3 linked regions of the Homo sapiens genome follow. The protein of the gene in region 1 interacts with the protein of each later gene in a pairwise test. Each region holds a gene or a part of one and is shown in the gene's direction. Other genes may lie near its edges.

The links. Proteins that work in one complex are often made in the same cells at the same time.
Region 2: the proteins of SGSM2 (region 1) and RAB3B interact in a two-hybrid assay, tested with the Homo sapiens proteins (one study listed by BioGRID).
Region 3: the proteins of SGSM2 (region 1) and RAB9B interact in a two-hybrid assay, tested with the Homo sapiens proteins (one study listed by BioGRID).

The regions. Positions count from the first base shown.
Region 1 is NC_000017.11:2,375,403-2,381,940, forward strand, and holds the end of SGSM2 (small G protein signaling modulator 2), read left to right. Parts: intron 1-89; coding exon 90-473; intron 474-734; coding exon 735-859; intron 860-1,330; coding exon 1,331-1,413; intron 1,414-1,556; coding exon 1,557-1,666; intron 1,667-2,454; coding exon 2,455-2,551; intron 2,552-3,633; coding exon 3,634-3,801; intron 3,802-4,009; coding exon of another isoform or gene 4,010-4,029; coding exon 4,030-4,118; 3' UTR 4,119-4,862; coding exon of another isoform or gene 4,863-4,894; 3' UTR 4,895-5,652; downstream 5,653-6,538.
Region 2 is NC_000001.11:51,973,446-51,980,929, reverse strand, and holds part of RAB3B (ras-related protein Rab-3B), read left to right. Parts: intron 1-42; exon of another isoform or gene 43-484; intron 485-3,688; exon of another isoform or gene 3,689-3,717; intron 3,718-3,812; coding exon 3,813-4,040; intron 4,041-7,484. UniProt on the Homo sapiens protein: The small GTPases Rab are key regulators of intracellular membrane trafficking, from the formation of transport vesicles to their fusion with membranes.
Region 3 is NC_000023.11:103,829,003-103,836,996, reverse strand, and holds the start of RAB9B (ras-related protein Rab-9B), read left to right. Parts: upstream 1-4,739; 5' UTR 4,740-4,937; intron 4,938-7,994. UniProt on the Homo sapiens protein: The small GTPases Rab are key regulators of intracellular membrane trafficking, from the formation of transport vesicles to their fusion with membranes.

The DNA.
Region 1 (6,538 bases):
GCATTCCAGCTCCCTTCTGGCCCGAGGAGGCGGTGGGCTGCGGGAAGGTGCTGGAGTGCAGGTGGAGCCGCCCTGTGTTCACCCCCCAGGTGTTTATCTCAGTGGATGATCTGGAACCCCCGGAGCCCCAGGACCCTGAAGATTCCAGACCAAAACCTGAGCAGGAAGCAGGACCCGGGACTCCGGGCACCGCCGTGGTGGAGCAGCAGCATTCCGTGGAGTTCGACTCTCCAGACTCAGGACTGCCCTCCTCTCGCAATTACTCCGTGGCCTCGGGCATCCAGTCAAGCCTAGATGAGGGGCAGAGCGTGGGCTTCGAAGAGGAGGACGGCGGTGGGGAGGAAGGCTCCAGTGGGCCCGGCCCTGCAGCTCACACTTTGAGGGAGCCCCAGGATCCCAGCCAGGAGAAGCCTCAGGCCGGAGAACTGGAGGCCGGAGAGGAGCTTGCGGCTGTGTGTGCGGCTGCCTACACTGTGCGTACATGCTCCCCAGGCTGTTCCCAGCCGCCCCAGAGGCCCTCCTGACATCCCAGAGCTGGGGAAGCGCTGGTGGGGTGGAAGGCGGGGCGCCCTGACTGCCCTGGAAGGGAGTTCTGAGCCCATTTCTCAGCATCCCCACAGGACTCGCTCTGGTCTCTGGGTTCCGTTTTGCTGCATTTCTTGGGGCGTCACCTCCTGCCCCCAGCCTGGGAAGGGCTGCCCGGTCTCATGCCTGAGGGCCCTCCACTCTTCCAGATAGAATTACTGGACACTGTGGCCTTAAACCTGCACCGCATAGACAAGGATGTGCAGAGGTGTGACCGCAACTACTGGTACTTCACGCCCCCCAACCTCGAGAGGCTCAGAGACGTCATGTGCAGGTGCCTTGTGGGGCGGGGCTCAGGGTGGGAGGCGGGACCCTGCCGCCAGTTACTCTGTGAAGATGAGGTCCGGAAGGTGCCCTGCTCCTCTCTCCTGCTCCTGAATCACACTTGGCTCCCCCTGCCTGGAACGCTTTTTTCCTGCACACCCCTCCCCCGCGCCTCTTCATTCTTAGGGGCCTACCAGACCTCCACTTCAGCCACACCTCTTCAGGAAGCTTTCCCTCATCCCCGCACCCCCGCCCCACATACCAAGCGTGACGGCCTTGGCTCTCCCTAAGTCGGAGTGCCTTGGGGGGGACCCGTGGGTTGTTCCCCGTTGTCTCCCTGTGGGGGGTGCACAGTACATGCCTTAGGGTCGTGGAAAGGCTGACTTCTGGGCGGCAGGTGGCTCTGGAGGACGTCTTCCCAGGGATCCCGAGGGAGGGAAGAATGGGGCACAGCCACAGTGACTCTCCCCCTGCCTTTCAGCTACGTGTGGGAGCACCTGGACGTGGGCTATGTGCAGGGCATGTGCGATCTGCTGGCGCCTCTCCTGGTCACCCTCGACAATGGTGAGGGATGGCGGGACATGGGACTGGGCTGCGTAAGCTGGAGAAAGGACGAGAGGGTGGCCAGGTCTGGAGGGGTGGGAATGGGAGCCGGCTCTGTCCCCTGCGTCTCCTGCCCTGCCAGCTTCACTCCTGTCTCCCCTCAGATCAGCTGGCCTACAGCTGCTTCAGCCACCTCATGAAGAGGATGAGCCAGAACTTCCCCAACGGGGGTGCCATGGACACCCACTTTGCCAACATGCGCTCCCTCATCCAGGTGAGGCCGGTTGCCACCCATGGGCATGGGAGCAGGCAGTGCTGGGCTGGTCCATCGTCCACATGGCTAGGGAGCATTCCACAAACATACTTGACATAGAAACTTAACTTCTTTCATTTTAAAAGACATGGTTTCAGCAGGGCAACGTGGCTCAGGCCTGTCATCCCAGCAATTTAGGAGGCCGAGGCAGGCGGATCACGAAGTCAGGAGTTTGAGACCAGCCTGGCCAACATCGTGAAACCCCATCTCTACTAAAAATACAAAAATTAGCCGGGCGTGGTGGCACACACCTGTAGTCCCAGCTACTCGGGAGGCTGAGGCAGGAGAATCACTTGAACCCGGGAGGTGGAGGTTGCAGTGAGCCGAGATCACACCACTGCACTCCAGCCTGGGTGACAGAGCGAGACTCTGTCTCAAAAAAAAAAAAAAAAACCATGGTTTCAGCGTTAGAAATTGAGGAGGAGTGTGTGTGTGTGTGAATGCTCGTGCCCATGAAAGTTCTGGCGAACAGTAGGGGTTGCTGATGACATCAGACACCCAGAAAATCCTATAACCCTAAAAATAATGCAGCTCAGAGAGATGGGTGATGGGAGGGGCAGCAGGAGCAACCCACCCTCCACAAGGAGATCCGAGGGGGAGAGAGTGCACCGCGCAGCACAGGGCAACAGACAGACCCACTGCCAGGTTGGGGATCGCCTGCATCCCTGGGCGTGAGCGGACGGTGAGTGGCGGCCAGAGGCAGCATCGGCTCAGGGCTCAGCCTCTCTCCCTTTTCCCACCCACATAAGATCCTGGACTCAGAGCTGTTTGAGCTGATGCATCAGAATGGAGACTACACCCACTTCTACTTCTGTTATCGCTGGTTCCTGCTGGATTTTAAGAGAGGTAAGAAGTGGGTTGGATCATGGGGCTGAGGTCAGGGACAGTGAGAGATCCCTCTTCCCCCAAGCCAACAGTTCTCAATCCTAACTGGACCTTGGAACCACCTGGGGAGCTTTAAAACCTGCCAGAACCCTGGCCCCACCCAGCCCAGACTCATGAACTGTGGCTGCCTGGGCCTATGGGTTCTTAAATGCTCGCTGACCAGACACAGTGGCTCACGCCTGTAAACCCAGCACTTTGGGAAGTCAAGGTGAGAGGATCGCTTGCACCCAGGATCTTGAGACTAGCCTGGGCAACATAGCGAGACCCTGTCTTTAATTTTTAAAAAAGAAAGAAAAAATGAGGCTGGGTGCGGTGGCTCATGCCTGTAATCCCAGCACTTTGGGAGGCCAAGGCAAGCAAATCACTTGAGGTCAGGGGTTTGAGGCCAGCCTGGCCAACATGGTGAAACTCCGTCTCTACTAAAAATACAAAAATCAGCCGGGCATGGTGGCGGGTGCCTGTAGTGGAGGCAAGGTTATGGTGAGCTGAGATTGTGCCACTGCACTCCAGCCTGGGCAACAGAGCCAGACTGTGTCTCAAAAAAAAAAAAAGAAAAGAAAAGAAAAAATTGAAAAGAAAACAAAATTTCCATAGGTGATTCCGAAGTGCCACTAGGGTTGACAGTTACAACTCTCATAGATCATAGTTTGGGGAACTTTTTTCAAACCAAAGCATTCCTGAGCACCAAGATGGGAGGCCTGTGACAGCTGCCCGGCTGAAGTGCAGGCAGAGTCTGCAGGAACCCAGTGTGCAGAAATTACCCAAGAAAAGGATGGGGCCTTGGTACGGGGTACAGAACCCCCATTCCTGAGCCAGGCTCTGTGTCATGGAGAGAATCCCACGACTTTGGCCCCTGAAGCTCTGATCCCTCACCTGGCTCCATTTAGAGGCCTGTGAGCAGCCAGTCCGGCCAGCATCAGCCCCAGCCCCAGCCTCAGCCTCAGCCTCAGCCCCAGCCTCAATCCCAGCCTCAGCCTCAATCCCAGCCTCAGCCCCAGATATGCGGCTAGGACGGGTGAGCAGCAGCCGCTTACTCTCCGCAGAACTGCTGTATGAGGATGTGTTTGCTGTGTGGGAGGTGATCTGGGCAGCCAGGCACATCTCATCGGAGCACTTTGTCCTGTTCATCGCCCTCGCCCTGGTGGAGGCCTACCGAGAGATCATCCGTGACAACAACATGGACTTCACTGACATCATCAAGTTTTTCAATGGTACGAGCTGGTCCAGCCATCCAGGCTGCCCTGAGCAGAGGTGTGGAGGCCCCCACCTCTGCCCCGCACACAGCTGGAGGGTTCTCAGGAATCCTGGGGGCCCTTCCCCAAAGGCCGGGATGTCAAGAATCTAGCAGAGCAGATGGAAACAGAGCAGGGTAGTCAGCCACCTCCTAGCCTGCTGCCCTTTCTCTGGGCCTCTCTACAGCTCTTCACGTTTCCCCCCAGAACGTGCTGAGCATCACGATGCCCAGGAGATCCTGCGGATTGCCCGGGACCTCGTCCACAAGGTGCAGATGCTCATAGAGAACAAGTGAGCTGGGGCCAGGAGGCAGCAGCCGTGCAGAGCCTGGGCTCCGGCAGGGAGAGGTGCAGGGGAGTCACCGCCCAGACCTCCCCAGCCACCAACCGACCCCACCTCTGTTCCTAACAAAGCGGTTGTGAGCCTGGATCCGACTCCCGGCAGTGCTGACCCTGCAGGGCAAGTCAGGGGCCAGGATGCCCTCGGATCAGGGCCGGGATGGGAGGGGTCAGCCTCAGGGAGCAGCTGCCTTGGGGGACACACCTACTCTGCTCCCCTCTCACACATCTGGGAGTAGCCCCACTGCCACCTGCAGCCGCAGCCTGGACTGCTGCCCACGAGTGAACCTGGGGCCCCACAGGATTAACAGGGGCTATAGCGGCCTGGGCCCTACTCAGCTGGGGTGGCAGAGGGCGAGAGGCTCTGTGCTGTGTCCCTTCTGAGGGTCCCTTTGCAGTCCCAGTATATTGTGCGTGCACCAGCCCCAGCTGGAGCAACCAAAACTGCTTCTGGTTTAGGCACACGTCACGGGTGCGGGAGACCCGGGCACGGGAGACCCGGGCCGCCTTCAGGCCGCTCCCCCGAGATTCTGGGGCAGTCGGAAGATGTGGGCCCTGGGTGGGAGCAGCCCACTTCAGCAGCACTGCCACTGCCTTTGGCCACCTGAGGTGACCCCCAGGCCTCCCCGGCCTTGTACAGTGTACCTCTGTGTATCTGTACAGCCTCGCTCCTGCCACCCCACCCTTGCGTTCTGCATTAGGTACTTCCCTGAAAACCACGTGTAAGAAGTGATGCTTTTGCCAGTGGATGATCTGGAATGCGACCGGAGCACTTGCTCTGAGGAATCCCAGGGTGACTCTGTCGGGGAAGAATCCGGTCACAGCCTCCCCTCAGAGACAGGCCTCAGTTCGAGGGCAGCCCATTATCTGTCGCAGACATCTGCCATGTCCCTGAGACTGCGGGAGGCAGGGGATGCATGGGTGTCCCCATCTGTCCCTGGTGAGAAGCAAGGCTAGCTCTGCCTTCCACATGCTTCTCAGGATGCCAAGAGGCCTAGGAACCCAGAAACCCCCTTGGAGGAGCTGTGTATGCGGGGGTGCCAGGAAGGGCATAGCTCCTGCCCCCAGGCCTAGGCATGCTGCTTGCTCGGCCATCCCCACTTCCTCCTCTACCCCAACACATGCAGGCTAGGCCTTGCCCTGGAACATGGAGGCCCTGCCCGGGGCTGGGGCCTAGTCCAGCAGCCACCAAAGTCTGGCAGACTTTCTGCATTTGAGAAACATGACAAAGGGCCCCGCAGCCCTTCTGCACCCAGCACAGCCTGCCCAGCCCAGCCCTGCCCCCGGGCACTGCACAGCCTGTCTGGGGGCCAGACCACCCCATTGTCCATCCTTGTTGTCCGTGAGTCCTTGGCCTCCACCAAGCACGTGTGGCCATTGTGTGCCTGCCTTAGTGACTCCGTGGTTTTGTGAGGAGCAGAGTGTGTATGATTTTTGCCTCAGAAACTATACTCTTCTGTGTAACAGACCAATAAACAACATTTGTCAACACTGGAGCCTCTGGGACTGGACACTGAGAGACCACGTGCCTTCTTTAAGCTCCACAGTCGGCCAGCCCCAAAAGGCGAGGACGGCAAAAAACTAAAGTTTCCAAGAGAGGTACTCCAGCCGCCAGTCTGGAGGGTGTGGGCTGGTCAGGAAGTCAGGGTGATTTGATAGCCAAACCTCAAGTACTCAGCGCCCTTGAGGGGACCTCACCCCAGAGTCATGGCCCCATCTCACGATGACCAGTGGCCCCTCTAGCCTGTGGATGAGAGAAGGTCCCTGTCCCATCCCTACCCCCTGCCTGCCCTACTGACCAGGCTGCAATGAGAAGCTGGAGCTTGACTATGCCACTGCAGCTGATGGCAACGGAGCTGCCCCTGTGGGTGTGGCTCTCACCCCGAGCACTGTCTGAGAGGCCGGAGGGGAGTGTCAGGAGGAGTCAGACCCTGCTGAGCTATAGACAGGCCCAGCTGTAACGGGTCTGCACCTCTCTTCCTGCCCTTCCCCAACCCGAGTGCTACTGGTCCCATCGTCGATGGCTCCAGGGAGAAGACACCAGTCACACAACATGTCTTCTACCCTAGAGGACACTGGCTTCCTGGACATTAGGGCCTGTTTTCCACTCACTCAAAGCTGAAGACCCCAGCCCATGGTCCTAGCAGGCTGAACCCAGCTTTATTATACAGAGAGAGAGACAGACAGATAGACAGACACAGAGTCTTGCTATCTCTCCCAGAATGGAGTGCAATGGTATGATCATGGCTCACTGCAGCCTTGAACTCCTAGGCTCAAGCGATCCTCCCAACTCAGCCTCCCAAGTAGCCAGGGATGCAGGCCCCCATCATGGCAGTTTTTCTATCTTTTTGGTAGAGGCAGAGGCTCACTGTTGCTC
Region 2 (7,484 bases), on another chromosome or scaffold:
TAACAAATAAAACATAGTATTAAAATAGATGGCTTTTTTTTAAAGTACAATTTCCATTTTATTTTTCTCCAGGAAATAGTCCATCTTCAGTCTTTAAGGACTCAGCTCCTTACATGGGCTTTGGTGGGGGTCGTGGGGCAGCACCTACAGGTCTAAATCAGGGTGGGGGTGTTTGGTCCTTGCGGGCTTCATGAGATCGATTCCTGACTACTTTGCTGTGAATTGCACAACTCGCATAGTAATGTAGCTTCACATACTGCTTGGGAAGCACATAGGCATCGAAGATGCTCACTTCAGAAATGTCCCTGACTGCTGTGGCCTCCACTATGTTTCAAATGACGAATTTCTTAATGGCCTTGTCCTTGGGCACACATTGGGCACAGTTCATCCAGTGAATAGGCTGCAAGTGGCTGCAGGCCTTTTTGGCATGACCATTGTTCCTTCTTTTCTTTGTCATCTTGGAGGCATGGACTGGAGAGAGGAGGTTTTTTTTTTTTTTTGGTAGAGACAGTCTTGCTCTGTTGCCCAAGCTGGAGTGCAGTGGCACAATCATGGTTTACTGCAGCTTCAAATTTCTGGGCTCAAATAATACTCCTGCTTCAGCCTCCCAAGCAGCTGGGATTATAGATGTGTGCCACCACGGCTGGCTAATTTTTTACTTTTTGTAGAAATGGGGTCTCCCTATGTTGCCCAGGCTGGTCTTGAACTCCTGGCCTGAAGCCATCCTCCCACTTTGGCCTCCCAAAGTTCTGGGATTACAGGTGTGAGCCACTGCACCTGGCCTTAGGTGGCACTCTTTTGTATGAAAAAATATTGGAGGAAATACAGTAAAATGTTAACAGCCATAGTTTCTGAGTGGGTGGGATGTCAGTTAATTTTTTTTTTGGGGGGGTGGAGTCTCGCTCTGTCGCGTAGGCTGAAGTGCAGTGGCCTGGATCTCAGCTCACTACAAGCTCCGCCTCCCTGGTTCACGCCATTTTCCTGCCTCAGCCTCCTGTAGCTGGGACTACAGGCACCCGCCACCACCCCTGGCCAATTTTTTGTATTTTTAGTAGAGATGGGGTTTCACCGTGTTAGCCAGGATGGTCTCGATCTCCTGACCTCGTGATCTGCCTGCCTCGGCCTCCCAAAGTGCTGGGATTACAGGCGTGAGCCACCGTGCCCAGCCGTCAGTTAATTTTAAATTCTCTTTTTTACACTTTTGCATAATATAATTTTCAAATTTTTTATAATGAATATATTCATAGTAGAAATTTTCTCTTGTGAATAAAGAAAGATGACTTGCAGGCAGCAGAGCGGAGGATGGTGTGAGGTTGTTGTGGTTGCTTCCCTTGTTTTTATGTAGAAAAAGCATAATGTGGCCAGGTGTGGTGGCTCACGCCTGTAATCCTAGCACTTTGGGAGGCTGAGGCAGGTGGATCACCTGAGGTCAGGAGTTCGAGACCAGCCTGGCCAACATGGCAAAACCCCGTCTCTACTAAAAATACAGAAATTAACTAGGCATGGTGGCAGATGCCTGTAATCCCAGCTACTTGGGAGGCTAAGGCAGGAGAATCGCTTGAACTCAGGGGGCAGAGGTTGCAGTGAGCCAAGGCTGCACCACTGCACTCCAGCCTGGGCGAAAAGAGCAAGACTCCATCTCAGAAAAAAAAAAAAAAAAAGCATAATGCCTTTACATGGCAAGTTCTTGCAACAGCCTTTGCACCTAGTACCATGAAAAGCTGAAAAGTTAAGGCTGTGAGACAGTTTAAGCAGCCAATGGCACCCTCCCTTCCAACCTCACTTTCTTCCTCCATGTAAGTGCTATGCCTCAGTCTCCAAGTGTCCTGGGCATGTTCCACACTTGCCTAGTGAGTCTTGTCATGGGGCAGATTGATACAGGGATGGAACTTACAGTCTCAGATAAGGATTGAGAGCTGGGAACAAAGGGAAGGAAGAACAGAGACCACAGGAGTCCAGTGGTGACATATGCAAGGAACTTTTATTAAAAGGCTGCTAACAATCTTACATATTTGTCTAACTTTTCTTCAAGAGAGCTTTAAACCTACATTAATCAGCTCCTTATCCTTACAGCTCATCTGAGAGGCCCAAAGAGCCACACCCACCAGCCTCATGCCCTTTCTTTGCCCTTGGGGAAAAAAACAGGAATTCCTAAAAAGAATGAAAACCCAGACACCATCACACTTGAATGCTGTCCTCCCACCCTCCTCTGACCACTCATCCAGCCATCTGGGTACCCTTGTGCTGAGAAGAAGGGGAGATTTCAGGTGGAGAAGCAGGGTACCTGAGGCTTCCAAGACATAGGAGAAGCAATTAAAGACTTAAATAAGACCATGTGACCAAGTGCTGAATTATGGAGTTCAGATTCGGGTGTTCTAGGAAAGCAGATGGTGACAGAACTGAGAAGGCTGGGGTCTCAGGAAAGGCCTGGCATGTATTAAATATTTGCTGAGTGAATGAGTGAACAAATAAAGGACCTAGGCTTTGAAGGCTTTGGAATAATAAGGACATATGTTCACATCTGTGTGGAATTTACCAGTTGATAATGGTTTCATCCATTGTTATCTCATTTGAGTCCTGTGATAGCCCTGTGAGAAGAGCAGGGTGGAAATTGTTCTCCCCATTTTCCAGATGAGGAGATTGAGCCCCAGAGTGATGAAGTGACTGTGATGAATTCAGCACACATTTCCTGAGTGCTTATTATGTGCTAGGATTCATGCTGGAAGCCAGACATGTAGGAATGAAGTCCATTAAGGCCCAGATGCTCATTCCAACAGTGCTGAAGTGATACAAGGGCTGTTACAGTGTTCTGGGAGCACAGGGAAGCTGGCACTTGATCTGGATCTCCAAGGATGGGTAGGAGTCTTTTAGGAGGAAAAGAGAATTCTAGGCAGAAGGAATACATGTAAGGGACAAAGGCAAGGAATAATGTGGCTTATTTGGCATAAAGTGTGTAATTAGATCTAAGGGAAGCACAGGTTGGTGAAGAGAAGGGGTATGGGAAGATAAAGTTTAGAGAATTGCCTCTTTGGTTAGTTGGTTATTTGTCAAATTGAACAGTTTGGACTTGATCTTTAGAGCTGTGGAAAGCCATGAAAGTTTCTATGTTTTATTTATTTTATTTTTTAGAGATGAGGTCTTGCTCTGCTACCCAGGCTGGCATTCAGTGGCATGATCATGGCTCCCTGCAGCGTCGAACTCCTGGGCTCAAGTGATCCTCCCACCTCAGCCTCCTGAGTCATAATAGTTTTTGAAGCAAGAGAATGATAGCCCTTTACTGAGTCTTTCCTTGGATGTGCATGTGTTTGCTGTTCTTGGCTTTTTTTTTCTTTCCCCAAAATAGCTCAGGAGCTGCTTCCTCCAGGAGCCTCTCCTTGATCACCGGGCCTCCAGGCTGAATGAGATGCTTCTCATGGACTTCCTCAGCCAGGACTCCTCTGTCTTATCACTTATCTACTGCTTTGTTACTCTGTGTTGACCCACCTTTTATTCTAGTTTTTGTCCACCTAGAGGTCAGGCACCATGTCTGACTCATGTTTGTAAGCCCCATGCCCAGCACAGGGCTTGCCCCAGATCAATGTGCTCAGTAAATATTTGCTGAAGGAATGAATGGGAGGAGCTGGGTTCCACCTCAGTGCTGAGACAACATTTGGGGCAGGTGTAGTGATGGGGTGATTCTGAGTAGTGTGCATTTCCTCAGTGGTGCTGGAGTAAGGAGTGAGTGTGTGAATGGTGGGGTGACCATTAGAAGGATGGTGACTCAGGGTGACACCGAAGGTCTGTTCCTGAGTGACTCTAGGTCTCTCTTGCAGATGGCTTCAGTGACAGATGGTAAAACTGGAGTCAAAGATGCCTCTGACCAGAATTTTGACTACATGTTTAAACTGCTTATCATTGGCAACAGCAGTGTTGGCAAGACCTCCTTCCTCTTCCGCTATGCTGATGACACGTTCACCCCAGCCTTCGTTAGCACCGTGGGCATCGACTTCAAGGTGAAGACAGTCTACCGTCACGAGAAGCGGGTGAAACTGCAGATCTGGGTGAGTCCCGGGAATCTTGGGCAGGATTTTCCTGAGAAGCGGCTGGCCTGCCAGTACAAGGGCTTAGAGGTGGGGCCAGCTTGGAACTTCTGGGCCTTACAGCATCAGGCATTAATGCTGTTTCAGGTGTGGCCCCTGGGCTACCCTCTGCTAGTTTTATACAAGTTTGCTCTCCTCCAGGGGTTCAGTTGCTTCTGCTGTTTAACTATCCAGGAGGTTTTATGTTGGCTTGTCTAAATGAGTGACCAAGAAACTGGGGCTTGGAGTTAGAGACTTGGGTTCAAATTCTGCTTCTACCACTTACTAGTCATGGAACTTGACTGAATTGCTTAACTTCTCTGGGGCACCCTTTCTCCTTTGGGGATTGTAATAGCATCTACATCATAAGGCTGTTGGGTCCTTAGGTCCTTGGCTTAGTTCCTGGAACATAGTAAATGCACACTAAATGTTAGCTAAGGTATCAGTTATCTACTGTCGTATAACAAATCACTTCATAAGTTCATAGTGCCAGACTGGGCAACATTGTGAGACCTCATCTCTCAAAAAAATAAAACAAATTAGCTGGGCATGGTGGTGGGCTCCTGTAGTCCCCATTACTTGGGAGGCTGAGGTGGAAGGATTGCTTGAGCCCAGGAGGTCGAGGCTGCAGTGAGCCATGATCATGCCACTGCACTCCAGCCTGTGCAACGGAGCGAGACTCCATCTCAAATAAATAAATAAATAAATAAATAAATAAATTGGTAGTGTCAAACAACAATAATAATTCATTATCTCATAGTTTCTGTGGATCAAACATTTGGGAGTGGTTGGGGCCTCTCATGAGGTGTAGCCAGATGTTGGCTTGGCTTGCAGTCATCTGAAACATACACTGGAGCTGGAGGATCTTTTTTTTTTTTTTAAGACGGAGTCTTGTCCTGTTGCCCAGGTTGGAGTGCAGTGACATGATCTCAGCTCACTGCAACTTCCGCCTCCCGGGTTCAAGCGATTCTCCTGCCTCAGCCTCCCGAGTAGCTGGGACTACAGGTGCCCGCCACCATGCCCAGTTAATTTTTGTATTTTTAGTAGAGATGGTGTTTCACCATGTTGGCCAGGCTGGTCTCGAACTCCTGACCTTGTGATCCGCCCACCTCGGCCTCCCAAAGTGCTGGGATTACAGGTGTGAGCCACCGCGCTTAGCCTGGGGCTGGAGGATCTTAAGACTGCACACTCACATGTCTGGTGCTAGCTGTTGGCAGAAGGCCTTACTTCGTTCCCATTTGGCCTCTTAGAGTGTCTTCACAGAGCTGCTGAAGTGTCTTTATTTGCATAGCAGCTGGCTTTTCCCAGAGTGAGAGATGTAAAAGGCCAGAGGAAGTGGCAATGTCTCTTATGAGTTAGCCTTAGCCTTACAGCGTTCTGTTGGTCACTGATTCAGCATGGGAGGAAACTACACAAAAGTGTGGATATTGGGAGGAAAGTATCACTGGGGACCATCTTGGAAGCTGGCTGCCACAGCTACTATTATTATTAGTATCTGCCAATAGTACTAATAAATTATGCACATATTTTAGATGATATAGCAACATGTAGATCATATAGTTTTCAAAAATGAATTAGTACCTGGATTGGAAATTTTGAAAATTTGTGATTTAAAGTATTTAAAACATGTATTATTATTATTTTATTTTATTTTTTTCGAGACAGAGTCTCACTCTGTCACCTGAGCTGGAGTGCAGTGGCACTATCTTGGCTCACTGCAATTTCCACCTCTTGGGTTCAATCGATTCTGTTGCTTCAGCCCCCCAAGTAGCTTCAATTATAGGCGTGTGCCACCACGCCTGGCTAATTTTTGTATTTTTAGTAAAGATGGGTTTTCACCATGTTCACCAGGCTGATCTTGAACTCCTGACCTCAGGTGATCCACCCGTGTTGGTTTCCCAAAGTGCTGGGATTACAGGCGTGAGCCACCACGCCCAGCCAAAACGTATGTTATTTATTATCTTTCTATTCTGCGTGTTAAATGTACATTAATACATTATGCATATATCTTATTGGGGCAGTCTGTATGTAGTACTTTTCTTTTTACAAATTATTTCCCATATACTATCTCACAATTAACACTATGAAGTAGGTACTACTTTAATACACTCCTGTTTTGCAGGATAAGAAACTCAGAGATTAGTTAACTTGCCTTAGGTCAACAACACTGCTATAAAGTGGGATTTCAACAAGATCTTCTGATTCAAAAGTATGTGCTCTTTTCTCTACACTGTGCATCTGAGGTATTATAGAGTTCATATTTCCCTTCATGATAATGTCAAATATTATATAGGGATAAAAGTTCATTTTGTTCATTTGCTCTCTATTAAAGGCATTGAGGAGTCAGAGATCATTAGAAATAGAAGAAGCTATACGGGTCGTCTAGTTCACTGATTCCCAGACCCATGGCATCAGCATCACCTTGGAATTTGTTAGAAATGCAAATTTTCAGGCCCACCTCAGAACTATTGAGTCAGAAACTCTGGTGGGTGAGTGACAACCATCTGTGCTATAACAAATTTTCCAGGTGGTTTTGTGGCTGGCTAACATTGTAGAACCACTTAGTTTAACTAGCTTGAGGTGAAAGTCAACATGCATTTACTAAAAGCACCTATTAGGTGCCAGGTGCTTTCACTTGTGTTATTTGATATCATCCTTACAGTTCCATGCACAGGGGGATGTGAGAGCACAGAATATTTGGGGCATGGTGAGCAATACAGTAAAACTGGATCAAGGTTGTGAAAGAGCAGAGAGTGGGTGCTGAGAGAAATTTGCTGGAGAGGCTATAGGTGGCAGATTGGGGGTCAAAGAGATCTTCCACAGCAAACAGAAAGTTCTTGTCATCGGTCAGAGGATTCATGCTTGATGATTCCTTAGGGAACTGAAGAAATTATTAGAGCTTACTTTTAATCTTTGAACATAAGATATTTTTTACTGATATTTACTATGTGGATTGACAGAAGTGTCTTTGTTTGACCCCCATATCAGATGGTCAGATAGCCTACACTCAAAAAATCTTGAGATAGGAGGAGGCATTGTGCCCTTCTGAGGGGTTGACAGTGGACTGACTCACTTCTTTGTTTATGTTCAGCCAATTGTGAGCTTTTGTGGTTTTCTTGTGCCTGGGTAAGTGGATTTATTGATTACATGGTCTAGTTTTAACTAAATGAAACCTCATAATGGATATGTGGCTTTTAAAGAGTCCTATAAAGAAACCTCTGATTGAAGACTATGCTAGAAGATTATAGTGAATCCAAGTGAGCATAAAGAAAATGGCTGAACTGGTGTTTTTCCAACTCCCAACACAAGTTCATTGTCAGCCACGTTTCGAGGTAAAATCAATGATAATCTAATTAGATACGACATAGTCAATCTCCCATCCAAGTACTAACCAGGCCCAACCCCTCTTAGCTTCCGAGATCAGAT
Region 3 (7,994 bases), on another chromosome or scaffold:
GTGTCATATCTAAGAATCCATTGCCTAACTCAAGACCAGACTTACTACTGCTTTCTTCTAACAATTTTATAGTATAATCCATTTTTAGTTAATTTTGTATGTGCTGTGAGGTGAGGGTCCCACTTCATTCTTCTGCATGTGGCTATCCTGTTATTCCAGCACACTTTGTTGAAAAAATCTATTCTTTCCCCATTAAATGGCCTTGGCAGCTTTGTTGAAAATCAATTGACCATAGACACGTGTGTTTATTTCTGGATTCTCAATTATATTTTACTGATCTACATGTTAGCCTTATGCCAGTACCACACTATTTTGGTAACTGTAGTTTTGTAGTAAGTTTTGAAATTGAAAAGGCTGAGTTCTCTTGCGGGATTGTGTTGGCTATTCTGGGTTCCTTGAGTTTCCATAAGAATATTAGGATCAGCTTGTAAATTTCTACAAAGAAGCCAGCTGGGGTTCTGACAGGAATTGCGTTGAATCTGTAGATCAATTTGAAGAGTATTTCCACCTTATAAATATTGTCTTTCAATCCACAAACATATGATATCTTTCCGTTTATTTAGATCTTTTTTAATTTCTTTCAACAAAGTTTTGTGTTTTTAAGAGTGTTACTTTTGCACTTCTTTTTTTTGCACTTCTTTTTTAAAATTTACTTCTAAATATTTCATTCTCTTTGATGTCATTGTAAATGCATTCTTTTTAACTTTCATTTTTGTATTCTTTCTTAAAATTTATTTGTTGAAGAAACCACGTTTTTTTCTGCAGTTTCTCCCCCCTCAACACACAGACACACACACACACACCTGCACTCTAAACCACACACACACACACCTGCACTCTAAACCTAAGTCTGGATGTTGTTGCTTACATCCCTACAATGTTAACATATTTTTCCTTGTATTTTTCTAAAAATTCATAGTTATATCTAGGAGCTTGATAGGGTTCAAATTGCATTTTTTGACAAAAAATACTTTCTATGTGCTGCTGTGTTTTTCCATCAAGAGGCATATGATATATGGTTAACACTCCTTTTGTAATGTTAGAAGACATTAACTATTATTACCTAGATCCACTAATTCATTAAAGGTTGTAATTTTATCATTCCTTCATAATTTATTAGCTGGGAATCTTTTTAAAACACTTTCCTCGCCAACTCCTTTGTTACACCAAGGAATAATTTGTATTTAAAAAAAGCAGGTTAAATGTTTGAGTCACTCTCTTTATTTACCAGTTTTAAAATAATGAGCTAGCTTTCTAGGTTTGGCCAAATTGAGCAATTATGTTTTTAAGTGTTTTTATGAATTTGTATATTTAAACATATTTGATATATTTCAATTCATTGTAGTTATTATCTTTACTGATGCTCAAATTGCCCCGTGTTTGACTGATGACAGCCTCTTCAAGTCCTTTTGACTCAACTCTAATAATGTTTTTAGCTTCCTTGCTATCTGGTGTGACAAGATATTTTATGTTCATCTTGGATATTTCTTGCCACATATCTGAAGTCAGCCATTTATTTAAGTAATCCTGGGTCCTTTTATTGGGAAATAGCATTTAGAACCATCCTATGGGCACTATAGGTGAATTTGGACACTGAGATTTTCATTGTTTCTAAGTATTTTTAGTGGACAGAGCTTAAAAATTTTTTTTAAATGACTAAACTGAGTTCATACTGATGCCTTCCATAATTGGATAATCTTAAGAGATCTTTCCTTCAGGCTATGAAAAATCTGGCAAAGTATTCCTATTCCATAATATTATCCCTGTGTCAAATGATTTTTTAAAAAAATATTGTATCACCAGAAACTGTGACTTGCTCTTGGACAATGATAGGTAAATAGTTCACAAATTCTTACTAATTTCCTATTTACATATCTATGACTGCCATAATTTCTGAATAAAACATTAGATGATCTCATGAGTATTGTTGTAAAAATTAGGACAATAGGACAAAGTATTTGAAATCAGGACTATCTGGAAAATATAACGTGTATAGTTGCCACATAAATATTCTAGGACAAAGATGACAAATACGTTGGCCTATGAATATGTTCAATATTAATGATTAGGACAGTAGTTGCTAAATTGGGTCCTGAGCTGTTCTAGTCCTGCTAATAGATGTTCCATAAACAAAAGAAATTCATGTTCACAAAAGTTTTGGAAATGTAAGATTGAAAAACAACACAACAGATTTCTTTACTTCAGGACTCCAAGAGACGTTAATGTTTTAATATGCAACGTGACTCTTCTGGAAGGGAAATAGTATGCAGTGTTTATACACTTATTTGAATGCTTCACGGAACCCTCTTGTACATAACAACTTGTGACTGCTGGACCAGGCTGTTCTTTTAAATTAATCACATTACAATTATGTCTTCCTGAAGCTCAGGTCAATGTATTTCAAACTGATCAGGATGAGACTTTGGGAGATCTTGTTCATTGAATGTTGAAGAGCGTATGTGTGTGTGTGTGTGTGTGTGTGTGTGTGACTCTGAAGGTAACCCTATCTCTGGTATCCAAACGCAATCTTGGTTTGGCCTTCTATCTACCGACTACACTATGATTCTATTGTGTGTGTGTGTGTGTGTGTGTAACTGTGTTATAAAAATAGAATTTTTATTGTGTGTGAAGGACACTATTTGACAGATCTCAATGATTGACCATTGGGAATAGTCCCATCTGAGAGCCACAAAACCATCCACAGCTGTTACTTTGAATCTTCGTGCTGTCCATTTTTGCTGATCCCTCACAACTAGTGTTAGTCATGTTGCTTCCATTCTAGAAAGATAATAGTAGCTGCTTTTTAAGTGGCCTCTAGAGACTCTTTTAATATAGGATTTACATGTAGGAATCTTTGGTCTAACAAAGGATTTTTCTTACCTTTAGGTGTTCCAACATTCACTAAACGTGTGGTGCTTTCAGCAGTTGTGAGATCCTGACTACAGAACGAGGTAGCTTAGAAACTAAAAGATCCTTAAAACTTGCCAGTTGGTTTGGGGGTTTCTCAGAGATTTTTAAACTGTTGGAAAATGGCATCTATGAGAAAATGAAAAAGTAGTCTAGATTGTTACACCTAAAGACGAGTTACTCTAATATGAAGGACTGTTATTTAAAGCATTTCACAAAACTATTTATTGAGGTGCAAAAAGAAAACATTGGAACATCAATATATTTATTTTTCTCATTCTTTTAAAATTTCTGTGGAGTATTTTAATGTTTACTCATTAAAATGTATGTTTAAAGTAATGTGTAATGTATACATGTACAGTAGTACATGTATATAATCTATAAATCCTTATACATATGTTGGGGCCCATGCTCAATAGTTTTTTAATAGACTAAAATGTATGCGGAAAATTTGATTTAGAGGATTGTGTGAATCTCGTCTTCATCAGAAGAGTGTTTTAGAGTGTATGTGTGGGGAACGGGGTTGGTTTAAATAGGAGCACATGAGATTCAGTTACATCAATTTATTTTATTTAAATATAACAACTATTAGTGATACAGCATTCATTCATATTCAGCAAATATTTTCTGAGCATGTCCTATGCAGCAAGCATTGCCCTAGGCTCTGTGCATACGGTGGTGAACACAAACGTTGTCCTTGACCTCATAGTCCTTCCCCACTATAGTTTAGTAGGGAAGACAGCTGTCAACCAAATAATCATACACTTAAATGTACCACCAAAAATGGGTAAGTGTTATGAAGGAAAAATACAGCAAGTTACAGGAGGCTACAAGAGTATAAACTGGGGCACCATCTCTATTCTGAGATTATCGAGAAAGGTTATCCTGAGAAGTGACATTTAAGCTGGGGCCTGCGGAGATTGATTGCACGATTGCCTTGTCAAGAGACAGAGGAAGAGTGGCCTAGATGGAAGTAGCGGGTATGTGTGAGGGCCTGGACGGGGTCATGAGATGAGTGAGGGCCTGTGCCACAAGGTCACAGGGTTTCGGGCAATGGGGAAGCTTCAGAGATGGAGCTGCCTGACAGAGAGGTGGAGTGCAGGCTAAATGACCTCAGGAGCTTTGTCCTTCTTCAATTCCAGGGGGAAAATCACAAACTAGTTGGAAGTACCAGAGGGCTACAGAAAACAACAAAAAGAGACTAGCTGGTCGGCTAGGCACAATTAAAACATCAAATTCTGCCCCAGCAGCAATTCCGGGAAATTCAAGTAATGCCCCCTGTGTGGCCCTCTAGAACTGTATCTGGTAAGAGTAAAGGGCAGTGTGTCCTCTATGCCTGCGCTACAGATGTGGACATTTTTTTTAATTGCCTGAAAATTTCATAAGCTGTAGCCAGTTAGAGGGCCTAGCAATGTGTTGTGATCATGTGTTTTCCTGAGTTATTTGAAACAAGAGGGTGTATGTACTACCCTCTTGGCAAAATTAAAGGATTTTGAGCTAGGATAAATGAGGTAGATCAGAGGATAATTGCAGGAAGTGGGGCAGTGGCTAGCCCTGCTTGAGGGCTTAGGCCCAGGCTGCAGAGGAGCTAAGTGGAAGAGCAATATTTGACGGTCTATTGCCGCTGTGCCTACTAATCGGCTAGGGGAGGAGAAGGAGGACAAGGGAGACCAGGGTTGGACGATGAGCATGAAAGAAGAGTGGGCGAGCCAGGGAGCGCTTGCCACATGGAGGGCGGGAGGCGGCTACACCGGGTCCCCACCGCCGAGAAAGGGGCACGAGGAGGCGGCGCGGGCCCCGCCCCCTCCCCTGGCGGGCGCGGGCGCGGGCTCGAGACGCTGCGCGGCGGCAGCGGCGGGCGCGAGCGGCAGCTGTCAGGCCACCGAGGTCCAAGCCGCACTTGCTGCCCCATTGAGGACGAGGAGGCAGCAGGAGCAGTGACGGTGACTCTAAGGAGCCGGATTCCCGGCACGCAGAGCTGACCTGCCTGGCACCCGCGGCCCTCTCCTGTTTCCTTCCCATTGTGTTGGGTAAGGTGCCTGTGCGTGGGCAGGAACAGGGGCTAGGGGCTGGAGGACCCGGAAGGCCGGGAGGTGGGGGGCCTGTGAGAAGAGGGAGAAAGGAAAGTCTAGTTGATCCCCAGGACCACTCGTAGCTTGAGAAAAGGGACTGAGCCGCTCCCGAGGTCGGAGTCGGGGGCAGGTGACAGTGCAGGGGGGCGTTGCTGAGTAATCCCGAGCTGCTGCCAGAGCCGAGCAGAGAGGCGCAGGGCTCCGTGGGGAGCGGGTGTGGCTCAGTGCGCATGCGCCACAGCCGACTAGCTCTAAGAGCTGGGGGTGAGGTGAGAGGACCTGGGTCGGAGGTAGTTGGGACTATGTGTGACATCTCACTTTCTAGGTCCGTAATGCTAACAGTGCCCCTGTCGTAGAGATGCCAGCATTCTTGTCTCCCAAGGAAGCTTTTTTTCCTTGTGTTCAGCTCGCTTGATGTCATCCAAACCTTATCTACCTATCTGTCCCTGGGCAGTCTACTGAGGAAGAAGTGTCCTGGGGACGATGCCAGATTGCTATCTAGTGTGCCTTTGGGCTTATAGCCCTAGAGCTGTCGTTGTGAGCAGTGAAAGGTTAGATGTGGGACTCCACATTGGACCCTTTGAGTTGCATATAGGATATAAATGTGGGCATGAATGTAGGAATAGCGTTTCAGTGGCATGACAGCTGTGGCATTTGGAGTCGGCATGGATGTAGCTGATAACTTGTTAGCTCTGCAAAATGAATCCAGTGCGTCAGAGGGTTTCCGCGCTACGAAGCACCCACCACCAGCACCAACGCCAAGTATTGGGTTGTATTGGAAACACACTCAAACATTCAATCATTTCTCATCCGTGTTGAATTTTACATAAATATAGCCGCGCCCAATTCTTCAGTGCAATATTTCCAATTATTGTGCCAGCATTCAACAGTGAGTTGAGTAGCCCTTACCAGTGTGTCGCCACAAGATGGGCTTTCCCCACAGGTCCAACCATGGCTCCTCCCCTGTACAGACTTCCAACAGTGCCACTCTCATCCAGTGCCTAGCCCTCCCCAGTTGCTCTTCCCCTATCGATCCCTGCAGTACACATCCCTTTCAAGACTTGCCTCCGAGCAATCTGCACTACTGATTTTGAGCATCATTCCACTCCATGGCAACTGAACTGATGCGAATTTGCTTTTCTGCCTCTCTTCTCTCCATCATCATACTAAAATGTACTATTTTCAAAGGTTCAACTTCTTTTTCTTCATTGTACTGCCTCCTCCCCCACCTCCACTCCCACCTCTAAGCATTCCCAACTAAATACAATAATTTGAATAAGGCTTTGTGGGTACTGCAGATTCAGAAGGTTTCAAGTGTGTTAAAGAACAAAGAGCTGGGGAGTATTGGTTATGGAAATTCCTAATTCACCTTACTCTCCAAGACTGAGACCCTGATGGGAAAAAAAAAAGTTAGTAAACTATCCTTAGAGCATGCTCATTAATGAGTTTGTGGGGGTAGGAAAGGGGAATTGCGTCTCTCGAATATTTTACTCAGTTAGAGTCAGATCTTTCTCTGAATGGGATCAAAATCAGAATAAGCGTTTTGGTCCAAATGCTCGCCCGACAGAGGACCCATAAGGGATGCATACGTCATTTGACTTTCCTATTTACGTATTTAGTGTTATCAAAGAATTCATTTGCCTGCTTAATGTTACCTTGTTTAAAGGTTTGGATTAAATCCGGCATATTCTGGGGGAGGAAAAAATGATTTCATTTGCTTTTACACTGTGCTAGTTCTTTTTAATTTAAGTATGTACTAAAGGACATGACATTCATTTTCAAACAATGATAAATGATTGTGGAGAGGCCAGCACCCACCGACAACATCAACTGGATATCATTATTCTGCTCTTGTTTTGGGTAGGAATGGGGAAATGTATATACTTATTTTTAAAATGTGAGAGTAGGGGGAGGAAAACTGGAGCATTTCCCTTGACTTTCAACAGGTGGAATTCCCATTACTCCCCATCCAGAAAATGATCGAGTCAAGTTCATAACTTCTGCTCTTTAGTTACCTTATAAATAATAGTATTTTGGCATCTTACAGAACTATGGATCTATTGTACCTTGGCATCAATTCAGAGGCATTAATTCTGGGCACCTACCTAATCATTTAATTGGTAAACAAATATTTATTATCTCCATGGAGGATCCTGGTGCTGCACACTGAAGGGGCTTCAAAGATGTATACAGTGAGCTTACTATCTAGGAATTTAAAATTGATCATGTAAGAAAGACAGGAAAAGTTTGTTAACAAAATAAGTCAGTATAATGACATTATTTCAACTGTAAACAATGAGATCCTGAGCTTGCATGTTAATTTGTAAACTCCCTGAGGGCAAGACCTTGCCTTAAACATTTATTAATTCCCAACAGTATCTACATCCAATGGATGTTTGAGTGATGAAGCTTTGCAAAGTAGATTGAGTGGGGAGACACCAGAAGCAGGGAGAGAAGAACTTTCACAATAGATTAGATGTGAGAAATTGTGGGCCAAAATGAGGATGGTAGCACAGGACTAGAAAATGATACTTCAAGGGAAAATCAGCAGGATTGAATGAAGGCAAGGAGACAAATCTAAACTGTATTCATTTTTACTTCTAGAAAATAAATGGGAGTTGGAGACAGCAGAGGAGAGTGGAGGGTTTCCTTAGTAAGGACACAACACACAATAGGCACTGTAGTGTTTTCTCAAATATCAGTAGCAAGATTGGACCAGAAGACCCTGAAGGTCCCTTCAATGCTGAGATTCTGTGCCATATGCAGATGTTCAAGCTTGTTGAGGAACAAGGCATTCTCAAATATGGAAGAAAGAGAAAAGGAAGAATTCTTATACTTTCACTAGCAGGCCCTTTCTGAGAAGGGTTAATACTGAGCCACAAGGCCCCCACCAGTGCATGAAAGGAGGTGGAGGAGCCAGAGGAATAAAAATCTCAAACCAAATTTTTCAAAAAATGCTTACAAATCTTTGCAAACTTCATAAGCTTTTCATTCTCCCCCAAAATCCTGTTAAGT